Regions from separate parts of the Homo sapiens genome. Here all the other regions are reported to be linked to region 1. Evidence: microRNA targets listed by miRTarBase, many of them from high-throughput screens and not tested one by one. Region 1 holds a microRNA gene; each other region holds the end of a gene's coding sequence.
The links. The annotated mature microRNA hsa-miR-3194-3p reads AGCUCUGCUGCUCACUGGCAGU and lies in region 1 at 1,766-1,787, shown strand. An mRNA with a match to its seed (bases 2 to 7 or 8) in the 3' UTR can be bound and repressed. Matches are read on the target gene's strand: a 7mer-m8 pairs with bases 2 to 8, a 7mer-A1 pairs with bases 2 to 7 and ends in A, and an 8mer does both.

Region 1 (4,000 bases):
TTGCCTGCAGCCCAGCGATCTGCTCACGAGCTGCCCATGGTTGAAAGACAAGACACAGACAGCTGCCTGGTCTATGGCGGCCAGCAAATGATCCTCACGGGGCAGAACTTTACATCCGAGTCCAAAGTTGTGTTTACTGAGAAGACCACAGGTCAGTGGATTTTTGAGCTCTTTCTCTGTCCCCCAGAATCATGCAAAAGTGACCATCTCTTTATTATATACAACTTTGGTTTTGGGGGGTAGATCCCACCGTGCAGTTTTATACCCTGCTCTTTTTACTCAGCGTGTCTTCAGGGATTGTGATGGCCATACCATTCGCCATTGCATGAATGTGCCATTCTACATTTTAACTCTTCTAGGTCATTTTGACAGAAAATGAGATTATCTCCCACCCTCAATCCTTTTTTTAAAATTACTTTTTTACATAAGGAAGGAAATTTTTAAAACTTTTTGCTATTATCAAGAAGGGAGGCCAAACAGCACAGTGATAAAGCATGCATACTCTGGCCCTGGATATCTTGGGTTCAAATTCTGGGTTTGTTATCTGCTTGCTTGGTGATCCGAGGCATATTACCTATCCGTTAAAATTTCTTACCCCATAAAGTTGTCATGGAGGTTAAATGAGCTAATACATGTCACGTAATTATAATAGTGCCAAGTACAGCATAAGCCAATTAATATTGGCTACTTGTATTTTTATTATAAGTAGTTCTGCAGTGAATCAGCTTATACTTCTAGGATTAATTAATCTTGTACATGAATCTATATGTATATCTTTTTAGTTTATTTAGGGTTTATTCCCAGCAGTGGAATTTTGGATAGTCATTCTGAGGACTTTAAATACATATTGCTAAATTACCTTCCAGAAATCTACAAATTGAAGTTGCCATCATGTCAGTCATAGTTTCACCCCCATCCCAGAAATGCCATTTTTTTAAATTAAAAAGGAATCATTGTGGAATTGGTACTTCTTTCTACTTTGCATTTCCTTGCTCTGAGACGCATAATGTTTTGTTTATTCACCACGTGTATTCTTCCTTTGGTGTACTATCGGTGTCTTTTTCAGTGGGTATGTGGTAGAAAAGATGCTGATCTGAAGTAGGAAAATATCAGATTAAGCAATAATTAATGAAACAAATGTGTTGTTAGAAGGAAATTAGCTCAAATAACTTGGGACACTTATTTTGGATACTAGAACCAATTTTCCTTTTCCTTAACAGACATGATTTCAGTAGGTTACTTCAAAGGGGTGTTGATGTTTGTCTATTTGTTTATTGTCCTTAGAACAATCCGAGAATATAACAGGTGAGTTGTCCAGTTGGAGGGATTGTGCACTGTACAAGGGCACCTCCTCTGAGGGCTGCCATTCAAATTGGATACATCACCAGTTTACACGTTAGTAAGACAACTTCTGGCAGGGGGAAGCAGACTGTCTTAGGCAAAGAGTGCTTCTTCCAGTCTCGCACAAATCATCCTTCTGGGATGGGCTGGACATGTGACCGGGGTGTGACAACTGCATTCTCACAGTTGGAAGCATAACAAGAGGCAGAATTTATTTTAAAAGGGTTTGATGACGCCTTTGCGAAAAATAACAAAAAAGGTATTAAGTAAGGCTGTGGCAGTGGGGAAGGGAGATGCAGGGATGGGTCGGGAGTGGTTTAGAAGGCAGATGTCACTGAGGTTTGATGGGACGTAGTGGTGTAGAGAGGCATTAAGAACGCAGGTGGCAGGGCCAGCCACCAGGAGGGCTGCGTGCCACCCGGGCAGCTCTGCTGCTCACTGGCAGTGTCACCTGCGGAAACTCTCCATCATCTATCCCCTGAAAAGCAGGGACAGTGACAGTGCCTACCCACAAAGGTAAGGTCTGAATGAATTAGAGCAAGTGGGCTTAGCACCGGAAGTGCTCGGTAAGGGGCAGGGGCTGCTGCTGTTTTTCTGGAGCTGCTGTGGATGGGGAAGGGGAAGAGGTTGAGTGTCGAGATTGTTTTGTTCACGTGGTGCACTTGGCCAGCTGAGATTTAGCACACAGGAGAGGAGGTCTGTGTGGGGATGAGGTTGGGCAGGGAGGACGGGTTTCATTTTGGAAGTGGAAGCGTTGAGTCTCATGTACCCATGGGCCTTCTTGGATGAACCATGATCTCACCTCTGTGGAAAGGCAAGAGATTGGTGGGTATGTGGCCACGTGGTCTAGACTAAGAAACCAGATCCTGGCTGCAGATGTTGTCATGGGAGCTGTCAGCAATGAGATCTGAGGTGAAGTCCTGGGAATTGGCTCCGACCTCCCAGGATGGCCTCCAGTGGGAGAAGGGGAGGCTTAGAGAACTGAGAGCCACATCCCTTAAAGGTGGCAGAGGAGGAGCTGTCACAGCAGGAGGAGGAGAACCAGGGGAGTCTGGTGCCCTGGAGACCAGGGGAAGGAGACTTGGGAAGGGTCAGCAGAGGCAGTGCTATGAAGGTCACAGAGCCCGAGGTCAGCCTGAGAGTCCAGTGATTGGGGGGCCTCTGGTGATTTGAATCACACGTACCCAGGTGGCAGTGAGTTGAGGAGTGAGCTGAGGAGTAGCGTTGCTTGAGGGATCAGAGATGATGAAGGTAAAGTCTGCTCTAGGCAAGAAGACTCTGCACCAGCAGTCCCCAACCTTTTTGGCACCAGGGACCAGTTGCATGGAAGACAGTTCTTTTCAAGGGTTGGGGAGATGGGCTGATGGTTTCAGGATGATTCAAGCACATTACATTTATTGTGTACCTTATTTTTATGATTATTACATTGTAATATACAATAAAATAATTATACAACTCACCATCATGTAGAATCACTGGGAGCCCTGAGCTTGTTTTCCTGCAACTAGGTAGTCCCATCTGGGGGTTGACGGGAGACAGTAACGGATGATCAGGCATTAGACTCTCCTAAGGCGTGCACAACCTAGATCCCTGGCAAGCGCAGTTTACAGTAGGGTTCATGCTCCTGTGAGAATGTAATGGCAGGCTCATCTGACAGGAGGCAGCGCTCAGGCGGTAATGCAAGTGATGGGGAGTGGCTGTCAACACAGATGAAGCTTTGCTCTCTCGCCCGCCACCCACTTACTGCTGTGCGCCTAGTACCGGTCTGTGGTCCGGGATTGAAGACCCCTGGTCTATACCACATTTTTAGCCTCAGCATTATTGACAGTTTGGCCCAGATAATGACTTGGCAGGGGCGCTGTCCTGGGCACTGCAGGATGTTCAGCAGCATCCCTGACCTCCACCCACGTGACACCAGTAGTGCGGCCCAAGTTGTGACAACCAAAAATGTCTCCAGACCTTGCCAAATTTGCCCTGGGGGGCAATATTGCCACTGGTCAACAACTGCTGGTCTACAGCTTAGAAATTTTCAGGAAAGACAAGGAAAGGAAAAGAGCATGAGGAAAAATCAGAATCAGGGTCACCTTAAGCCTTCCCCTCTGCGTCTCAGCAGTTCAGGCCCAGCATCTGCTTGGTGGAATGCCTGCACAGCTCCCCCGAGCTGTCCTGCAAAGTGGGGTGCAGGGAGAAGGCCTGGCCTCTGCCTGCTTTGCCTTGAGGGGCTGATCCAGCCACACAGGGCTCTGTTGACTGAGTGGTTTCTATTTACACTGAAATCTTTTTGTTGCTGATGGAACTGTGCAGGAAAGAGTTTGAGGCTGGATCCTACCAAGTTCCTTACGGAGTTAGGAGTCAGCCAGCTTTTAAGCACTCTGGGAGTTTAATTATTCTGAAGCTATCCAAGGGCATCAATTAAGCATTTGTGGAATGAGTGAATGGCATTTATTCTCTAGCTTCTATTCTCTTGGTTTCAGAAGAAATTTCATATTTACCTCTTGAAGGCAGGAAAACACAGAGCCTGTTTCAGCTGTGAAAAGTTGGCTGTTAAGAACAAGAGTAATAATCACAGCTCCTATTATTGGCCACTGTCTGCAGGCAGCCCTGTGCCTGCCACTTTCCGTGTGTGGTCTCATCTAAGCTGGCACCCATGGGAGGCAGA
Region 2 (4,000 bases), not on the chromosome of region 1:
TTCCCCTTAGTCAGGGGAGAAAGGGGGAGACACACTGTGTCAAATGTGGCCAAGAGAACAGGTCTAAAGACAGCTCTGGGCACCCCAGGGGTTTCAGGAAGGTGAGAAAAAGCAGCAAAAGAGAACAAGGAGTGGCCAGAAACGTAGGAGAAAGCCAGGCAAACTCGGTGTTTTGGAAGCCAAGGGAGGTGTTTCTTCAGGAGTGCTCAAGGACCGCAAAGGATGCTAACTTCAGGCGAGGACCGAGGCGACCCATCACCCCCTGCCACACGTGACCTGAAGAGCAGCTTCAGCAGAATGGATTTAACAGCAAATGCAGGAAGAGAAATTAGGGAACACAGAACACTTTTTCAAGACTAGAGACCATGGCACAACTGGCAAAGGAGAGAGGTGTGGACTGTCACGGGGGCTAAGATCCAGTGTGTAGAGTGTTCCAGAAGGGAGGGCTGCGAGGAGGGGCATGTAGGAAATGTGCTGTCAAGTCAAATACAGCGAGACCAAAATTCCACTGGCACGAGAAATGGGATGAACTCAGTAAGGGCACCTTCCACATCGCTAAGGAGTAGGGTGAGAAACGCCCACCCAGAGGCACCCAGGGCTGCGCATTTGACGGGGCCTTGCTCTTTCCAAGAAGAGACAGACTTGGCATGTTACCTATCTGAAGGGGGCGCAGAGTGGAGTCCCTGAGGAGAGGATGGGATCCAGGCGGTGATGGGATCCAAACGTGGTCGTTCAAGTCTTTTCTCCTCAAACATTTAGCCAAGGGCACAACTCTATCTCCTAAGCATTCCAATTGAAGACTCTTGTGTGTTCTGCCCCACAATTTACTCATGTTGCTCCATGATTGGGATAGGGTGCGTCACACATTATCTAAAACTTCACAGCTCCCAGTGTCTGTCCCAAACTCCTGCCAACTGCCAGGACACACCGCGAGCCCCACAGCAGCCTCTGCTGGTGGACAAGGTGAGCACATGGCCTAGGTTTGAAGCATGGTTTTTATGGCTCTGGCCGTCCCTTCTTCCCCAGGGGCCTCAGCTTTTGGCATTTGCACCTCTGCCCCCAATTTCTCATTTTTTCAAGAAAGGTCCAAGACCTGCTTTCCCTGGCAAGCTCAGTCCACCTTTCTGAAATGCTTAATGCCCTAGATCTGTAATGTGATTTTCACTGTATTATTACTTCACATAACTTTTTTTTTTTTTTTTTTTTTGGAGATGGAGTTTTGCTCTTGTTGCCCAGGGTGGAGTGCAATGGCACGATCTTGGCTCATCACAACCTCCACCTCCACCTCCCACGTTCAAGCAATTCTCCTGCCTCAGCCTCCCAAGGAGCTGGGATTACAGGCATATGCCATCATGCCCAGCTAATTTTTTGTATTTTTAGTAGAGACAGGGTTTTACCATATTAGTCAGGCTGGTCTCGAACTCCTGACCTCAGGTGATCCACCCATCTTGGCTGGTGGGATTACAGGCGTGAGCCACTGTGCCTGGCCACATAACTGTTTCATTAGCTGCAAGAAGCTTCCCACACCTTGATGACTTAAGGCCTTTGGCTAATATGAACACAAGGATGAAGTAGACTACAGCGAGTAGCGTTGTGGACCAGTTACTAAGCCCATCTAAGCTTCAGTTTCTGAAAACCAAGGTTAGTAACATACCCGTTTCATAGGATTCTAGGGGGATCAAACAGAAATGGACACTCCTGCCACGTGGTAAGTGCTCTTCAAATGCTATTACACAACGCAAGTTTCCCCTCCCCTCCATTATCTCCTAATCATTCTCCCTGACACCCTCCTTCCACCCCTACCAAAAGGTGCTAGATGCAAGGGGGGCATGCAGAATTCAAGCACTGTTTCTCCCCATGGAAAAAAATCAGGTTTCAAGGTAGTCAGTCACATCTAATAGTGTACTTAAACATACCCCTCTACTTTTTGTCGTTTATTTCTATTTATAACAAACTCTTGTGTTGAGGGCTCTTGATGGACGGCAGCAAGGGAGCTGCTCTGCTGCATATGAAACCCCGACCCAGAGCCCCTCTACTCATGCGATGTGTAGTTGACAGCCACTTCACAAACATTTTCAGCTACAGAAAATATATTCAAGGAAGAATGTTAAAAAGTTTCCTTATAACCTACAAGGGGTTCTCTCTAGATGTAAACAAATCTGGATGAAATATTTTAATCCAAGTATACCATTTCCCACGTCGTAAATCTTCTGGGCTGGTGGGAGCCAATCCAGTTACACACTGGAAGGGGAGTGAGGGTCCCAGGGCTTCCCCACACCTCACAAGGCCCACCCTTGTTTCCACTGACCCTCTCTTTGACCTGAAACCCCCAATTGCCTCCACAGGCAAAACAAAACTCAAATCTCTCTAGACTCAAAGACTTAAGACTATGCCAACCTATTTGTTTGTAATTACACTGCTCAAGGCTCCTGTTTCCTCTCCTTCAGCCATTCTCCAGAGCGCTCCTCAAGAGATTTTAAGTCTCTCACAGCCAGACTGTATTTCCCTTGGTCAAGAAGCAACCACGGAATATTCTACCTGCAGGAGATAACAAATGTTGACTAATTTATGTATGAGACCATTCTATAGTACTTTTGCAGCGAATTACCCCCTATTCTGAAGGTTAATGTTTTTCCTTCTGATGATCTAGACGGGGTCCACACACTACAGCATTCAGCCCAAATCCAGCCCATGAGCAGAGAATCTTTTTTAAAAACAATCCTTTAAAAATATAAAAACCTAAGACTATGTGACAGAGATCATATGTGGCCTGTAAAGTCTAAAATATTTACTGTTTGGCTCTTTATCCAAAACTGCTGATAGTGCCTCTGGACAAGAGCGTAAAAGATGAGTCATGGCGTAAGGGAATAACTGAGAGGTCACGTAGAAACCTGGTCAGCCTATGAGGAACCTTGAGGCACGATGTTTCTTTATCCCAGTAATTCGGCAACTCGACTCCAAGCACCCAATTTTGTGGATGAACCCCAAGGAGTCTGTCAACTTTCAAAATCACGGCAGCTGTCTGCCACTTGCCAGACTTATTTTGGGTGAGTAATAATAAATAGAGAAATAAGTAATAGTTAGAGGTTGTAATAAAAAGCTATTTAATGTTTGATAGACAAATTGAAGTCCATAAATCTCCTTGAATAAAGATGCTAAAAATGTTATTCTTGTTTTTTAAATAGTTTCGTTTTTACAAAGTTCTGTACATAAAAATAAATATACAGAAACAAACCCCATCAACTGTCCACATCAGTAATCCTCACTGGTGGGCTCACCATTGATAAGGAAGACATCATTCAACGCAACCTGTCACAGAGACTGTCCTAGCAGCAAGGATTTCTAACCTCAAAAGAACATTACTAGGCCTCTTTTATCAAGATTGCTAATCATCTAGAGGCCTTTACCTACCAACTAGCAATTAACCATGAAATCAATGAATGCAATCACTGTCTCCAAGTAGAATGTGACCAATGACCTCATGCCTAGAGGCAACATCTATACCTTTTGCTGACTGGAGCCCTGACATATGCAGGTGTAGTTAGGAACAGAAATCAACCCCACCTCCCCTTGGCTAGTCACTGTGAAAAGCGTGCGTAAGGCAATTGAATCGAGGGTTAAGGGTTCATCTTGCTAATGTCAAAAGTGACACTAACAAGATTCTTAGCCTCATCCGCCAGATGACGGGCCTCTGCGTCCAGGTCTCCAGGAGCAAGCTCCGCCTCCTTCACCAGACAACGGGTTATAACCTGGGAGGACAGAAAAGCAGCACAACAGTATTGATAAAAATCTGAAAATCTGGGAACATTGTATATCCACAATAAAATTATGAGAGTGACACGCAAAGCACTGCAAAGATACAGATCCTAAGGGACATTTAAAAAAACCTTTTAGCTATGTGAAAAAAAAAAAAACCTTTATATTGTGATTGCCATTTGAACTGATTGTCTGGTGGGGAAAAAAGTCATTCAGCTTCTTTGTCCCAACCTCCGAAACACAT
Region 3 (4,000 bases), not on the chromosome of region 1:
CAGAGGAACATAAAAGTAAAGGACCCCATTAACATTACCATAGAATCAACAAATGACACACATCTACCCCTGACCTTCTCTACAACTCTTATTCTTCTCCCTCACAGAGACTCCAGTCTCTCCACAAGTCACCATGCCAGAGAGAGGCAATGGGAGCTACATGAGGAGAAAGCAACAAGTGATCCTGCAGGGCATGAAGTCAGCCACGAAGTTCTGAAACAGGAATGAGTGTCATCCAAGATTATTCAGCAGAATTCAGGAGTCCTGATTTCCAGACGCAGAGGGAGAACACTTCTTTCTCAGGGAGCAGAACTGCCAACTATGAAGAGACACAGGCTGCCCAACTGGGGCTCATTTTAGGCCCTGACTCTTGGGGTGAAGTGGCAGTAGTTGAAGGAGCATGAATCCACAGGAATGTTTTGCCAGTCTCTGAGTCTGGGAGTAGTACCCACCTGACCTGTTTACTGGGGGCAGAGTCCAGAGTGGGACAAGAGGGAGGGGACCACAACCTGTGATCAGAGGGCAGCAGGGCTGCACAGGTCCTCCTGAGTGTATTTGACACCAAGTGGGGTGGAGGTTATGGAGAGGAGGCCACACAACAGGGACAGAATCAGGCCAATCCAGGCCTTGGAGTCAGCATCTGTCCAATGAGCCCAAGTAACAGGGATTTCAGGATAGGGCCTCCTAGGCTCACTTAGGGAGCCAGGCCTAGGTTTCACTGACACTTTCCTTCATGCCTGCTTTCCTCAGGCAGTGCAGCAGAGCCCTGCGGGAGGCTGCGGGGATAAAAGCCTCCATCTGTGGTACTGCCCACCTCCCTGTTCACAGTATCCTCTTCCCTAGGCCATTCTCCCTCATGGGGGAACCGGCAAGAGGCAAGCCAGAGGTGCTGCCTCACCGCCCACTGGCAGCAGCCCCAGGGAAGGAAGGGAGGGAAGGAGGGACAAGGATCAGGCCTGGGAGGCCCAGGGTTTTCAGACCTAGGGGATCTGGTCCCAGGGGGCGGGCCAGGTTGGCAGGGGAGCCCAGGTGCCCAGGTTCTAGGGGCGGAGCCTAAAGACTGGGAGGCGGAGCCCCAAATGACAGAAGGCGGGACTCAGGAAAGCCGGTGGGGGCCAGGGCGGAGCCGGGCAAGACGCGGTCGTTGCGGTTCCCAGGCTTGCAGTGCAGGGGGCACGGTGACTCACCCAGGCGGCGTCCGCCCGACCCTCTGAGGCCGCGCTCTTGCCACTTCCGTCTCCCGCAGCTGCTGAGGCCGCGCAGTCCCGACCCCACCACAGTGCCCCTCTCCTGAACCAATCATATCTCTAGCCTGTACCCGCCCTGGCCAATGGCCACGCCAAGTCCCGCCCTGCCCCCATCACGCAGCCACCGCCCTCACTCTCGACCCCACTCATTGGTCGAGTCGGGCAAACGCCCTCCCAGCCTTTAGCCAATCGGATGCCTAAAGACGAGACTATACCTGGAGGAAGGAGGCGCGGCGCCGGAGGGGAGACGCGACCAATGGGAAATCACAGCGCGTCCTTGCGGCAGCCAATAGGAGAGCAGTAAAGAGGGGGCTGCTGGCCACTGCTCTGGGGACCGGAAGTGGAGGCGGCTCGTCGCCTACTGGTAGCGCAATTAGAGGCGGGCATTGTAGGTTACATGCCTAAAGCCACTTCCGGTGATGGCCCCGCCCAGGAGGTACTTCTGAAACAGGTCCCCAGTGGCACCTCAGTTTATCCATTCCCGTTTTGGTTTCGCAGCTGTCATCCGGTCCCAACGCCAGAATAGGAGAAAAACCTGCAGGCTAAGAGAGAAGGGAGGGCTGGGCCTGAGGTTCAGTCTTGGTCATCTCCGACTGGCGGCGCTAGGATTTCCCCCTTCCTGTGTCTTGATGGGTTCCTCCAACACTCACTTTGTATCGATAAACGACCCTGCAGTTCTTCACGACCTGCATTGCGCTGGCAGTCCTGAGTGAAGAACTCTCCTCTCATCCCAGAGATGGGAAACCTGGATCTGAGACTGCCAGCTAGCTGCGGCCTCCTAGTCTGTAAAGCGAAGGGAGACCAGGACGCTCCCAAGGACCCGGCTTATCGCCCCTCCCTTTCCTTCCCGGGGACCCAGAACAGACCACAAGACGGAGGGTGGCCGCTGGAGGTCGCCGTGGCCCCGCGATACCACCAACCGACAGAAATGGAGAACAGTTGATTCAGATTCAGCTGATATTCTCAGGTCTGGAGCGGGCCTGAGCGCTTTAATTAGCCCGGGGCTAATGTCCTCACCCATCTTTGTTTATAGAACGTTGAAACTCCAGTACTGTTGGTAAGTTCCAGGAAGACAGGAACTTTGCACTACTTGAACTCCAGGGTCTAGAACAGCCTGCAATCTAGCAGATGCTGTAAATTTTTTAATTAAATACTGAACTCCTGTAGGACGGTGATTGTGTTTTTATTCATTCCCAGCACTTACTATAGTGTTTGGTGATTACAATGGCTGCAGCATTTGTTCAAAGCTCTATCACAGGCTTTCTACAGTGTAGAGCTTAACCTGCCTATCCCTTTTCCCAGATCAGGGGAAACAGAAAGTCAGGAGGTTGCACGCAGTTAATACCTTGTGTTTTCCCAAGGGCAGGTATCAAATACAAAACTGCGTCCGCCGCAGCTGGAATACGCACAGGCATCAAAATGGGGCCTTTTGGGCCGGGCGCGGTGGCTCATGCCTGTAATCCCAGCACCTTGGGGGGCCGAGGCGGGCGGATCTCAAGGTCAGGAGATCGAGGTCATCCTGGCTAACACGGTGAAACCCCGTCTCTACTAAAAATACAAAAAATTAGTCGGGCGTGGTGGCGGGCGCCTGTAGTCCCAGCTACGGAGTCTTGTAGTCCCAGCTACGGAGCTTGCAGTGAGCCGAGATAGCGCCGTTGCACTCCAGCCTGGGCGACAGAGCGAGACTCCGCCTCAAAAAAAAAAAGGGCAGGGGGGACTTTTGGACAGTCCTTTAATATTGGGGAAGTGCCCCAAATTTCTTTTTCTTTTTATTTTTCTTTTTTTTTTTTGAGACGGAGTCTCGCCCTGTCACCCAGGCTGGAGTGCAGTGGCGCCATCTCAGCTCACTTCAAGCTCCGCCTCCCGGGTTCAGCCATTCTCCTGCCTCAGCCTCCCGAGTAGCTGGGACTACAGGCGCCCGCCACCACGCCCGGCTATTTTGTATTTTTAGTAGAGACAGGGTTTCACTTTCTCCTTAGCCAGGAGAAGTGCCCCAAATTTCTAATCCCTTAAGCCAGGACCTTGGTAGCCCTGAGGTGTGATGGGAGACTCTGGACAGAACCACCTGTTGACCTATCCAGGACCCAAATATGCACCACAGGTAGGAATCTTTTTATTACCAAAGGTACTGTATGTGTGAAAGATGGAGAGAGACCCAGACCCCAGATAACAGAGGCATGATAGATATGATCGTCAAGATGGAGAAGCCAGGCTGGATTCTAAGCAGGGACTTAGAAGGGGAAAGGAAGTGGAAAGTTTTCCCCACTCTCCCTTCCCTACTAAAAGCCAGAAACCAACATCTTCTACCATTAGCCTTTCAAAACTGGGTCCCAGGATCTTGATCTCCAGGTCATAAAAATACACACAGGGACACCAGAAGCCACCTACAGATTTATTAAACTTTATTTCCTCTGAGTCTCTGGGCAGTCAGCAGGGATGTAAGGCGAAGTGGCAGTAGCTGAAGGGGCCTGAGCAGAGCTGGTGCTGGGAGGGGCCGGCATGGACAGGAAGAAGAGGAGGAGATTTAAATATCCAGGGCTGAAAGCCAGTTAATAGTTCTCCTTCATCTGTTTTTGTATTTTGTGTAGCATCTCCTGCATCCGCCGCAGCTGGAATAGGCACAGGCATCAAAATGGGGACTTTTGGAGAGTCCTTTAGTATTGGGAAAGTGCCCCAAATTTCTAATCCCTTAAGCCAGAACCTTGGTAGCCGTGAGGTGTGATGGAGACTCTGGACAGAACCACCTATTGACC

Region 2: miRTarBase lists SELENOS as a target of hsa-miR-3194-3p. The part of its 3' UTR that is shown has no 7-base or 8-base seed match.
Region 3: miRTarBase lists SEPTIN4 as a target of hsa-miR-3194-3p. The part of its 3' UTR that is shown has no 7-base or 8-base seed match.

Annotation. Positions count from the first base shown.
Region 1 is chr20:51,450,699-51,454,698 of GRCh38, reverse strand. MIR3194 (microRNA 3194) reads left to right here and starts at 1,722; the gene lies at 1,722-1,794. NFATC2 (nuclear factor of activated T cells 2) reads left to right here. Exons shown (of 11, transcript NM_012340.5): 6 at 11-151. RefSeq lists an enhancer at 3,318-3,819.
Region 2 is chr15:101,269,108-101,273,107 of GRCh38, forward strand. It overlaps SELENOS (selenoprotein S), which reads right to left. Exons shown (of 6, transcript NM_018445.6): 6 at 3,084-3,749. The coding sequence ends at 3,664. Among named protein-coding and RNA genes, the nearest start is that of SELENOS, 6.4 kb to the right of the region's middle.
Region 3 is chr17:58,516,630-58,520,629 of GRCh38, forward strand. It overlaps SEPTIN4 (septin 4), which reads right to left. Exons shown (of 14, transcript NM_001368771.2): 14 at 3,627-3,856. The coding sequence ends at 3,797. SEPTIN4-AS1 (SEPTIN4 antisense RNA 1) reads left to right here and starts at 3,208. Exons shown (of 5, transcript NR_110810.1): 1 at 3,208-3,348. It also overlaps a transcript of MTMR4 not described here. RefSeq lists enhancers at 1,767-2,512, 1,860-1,959.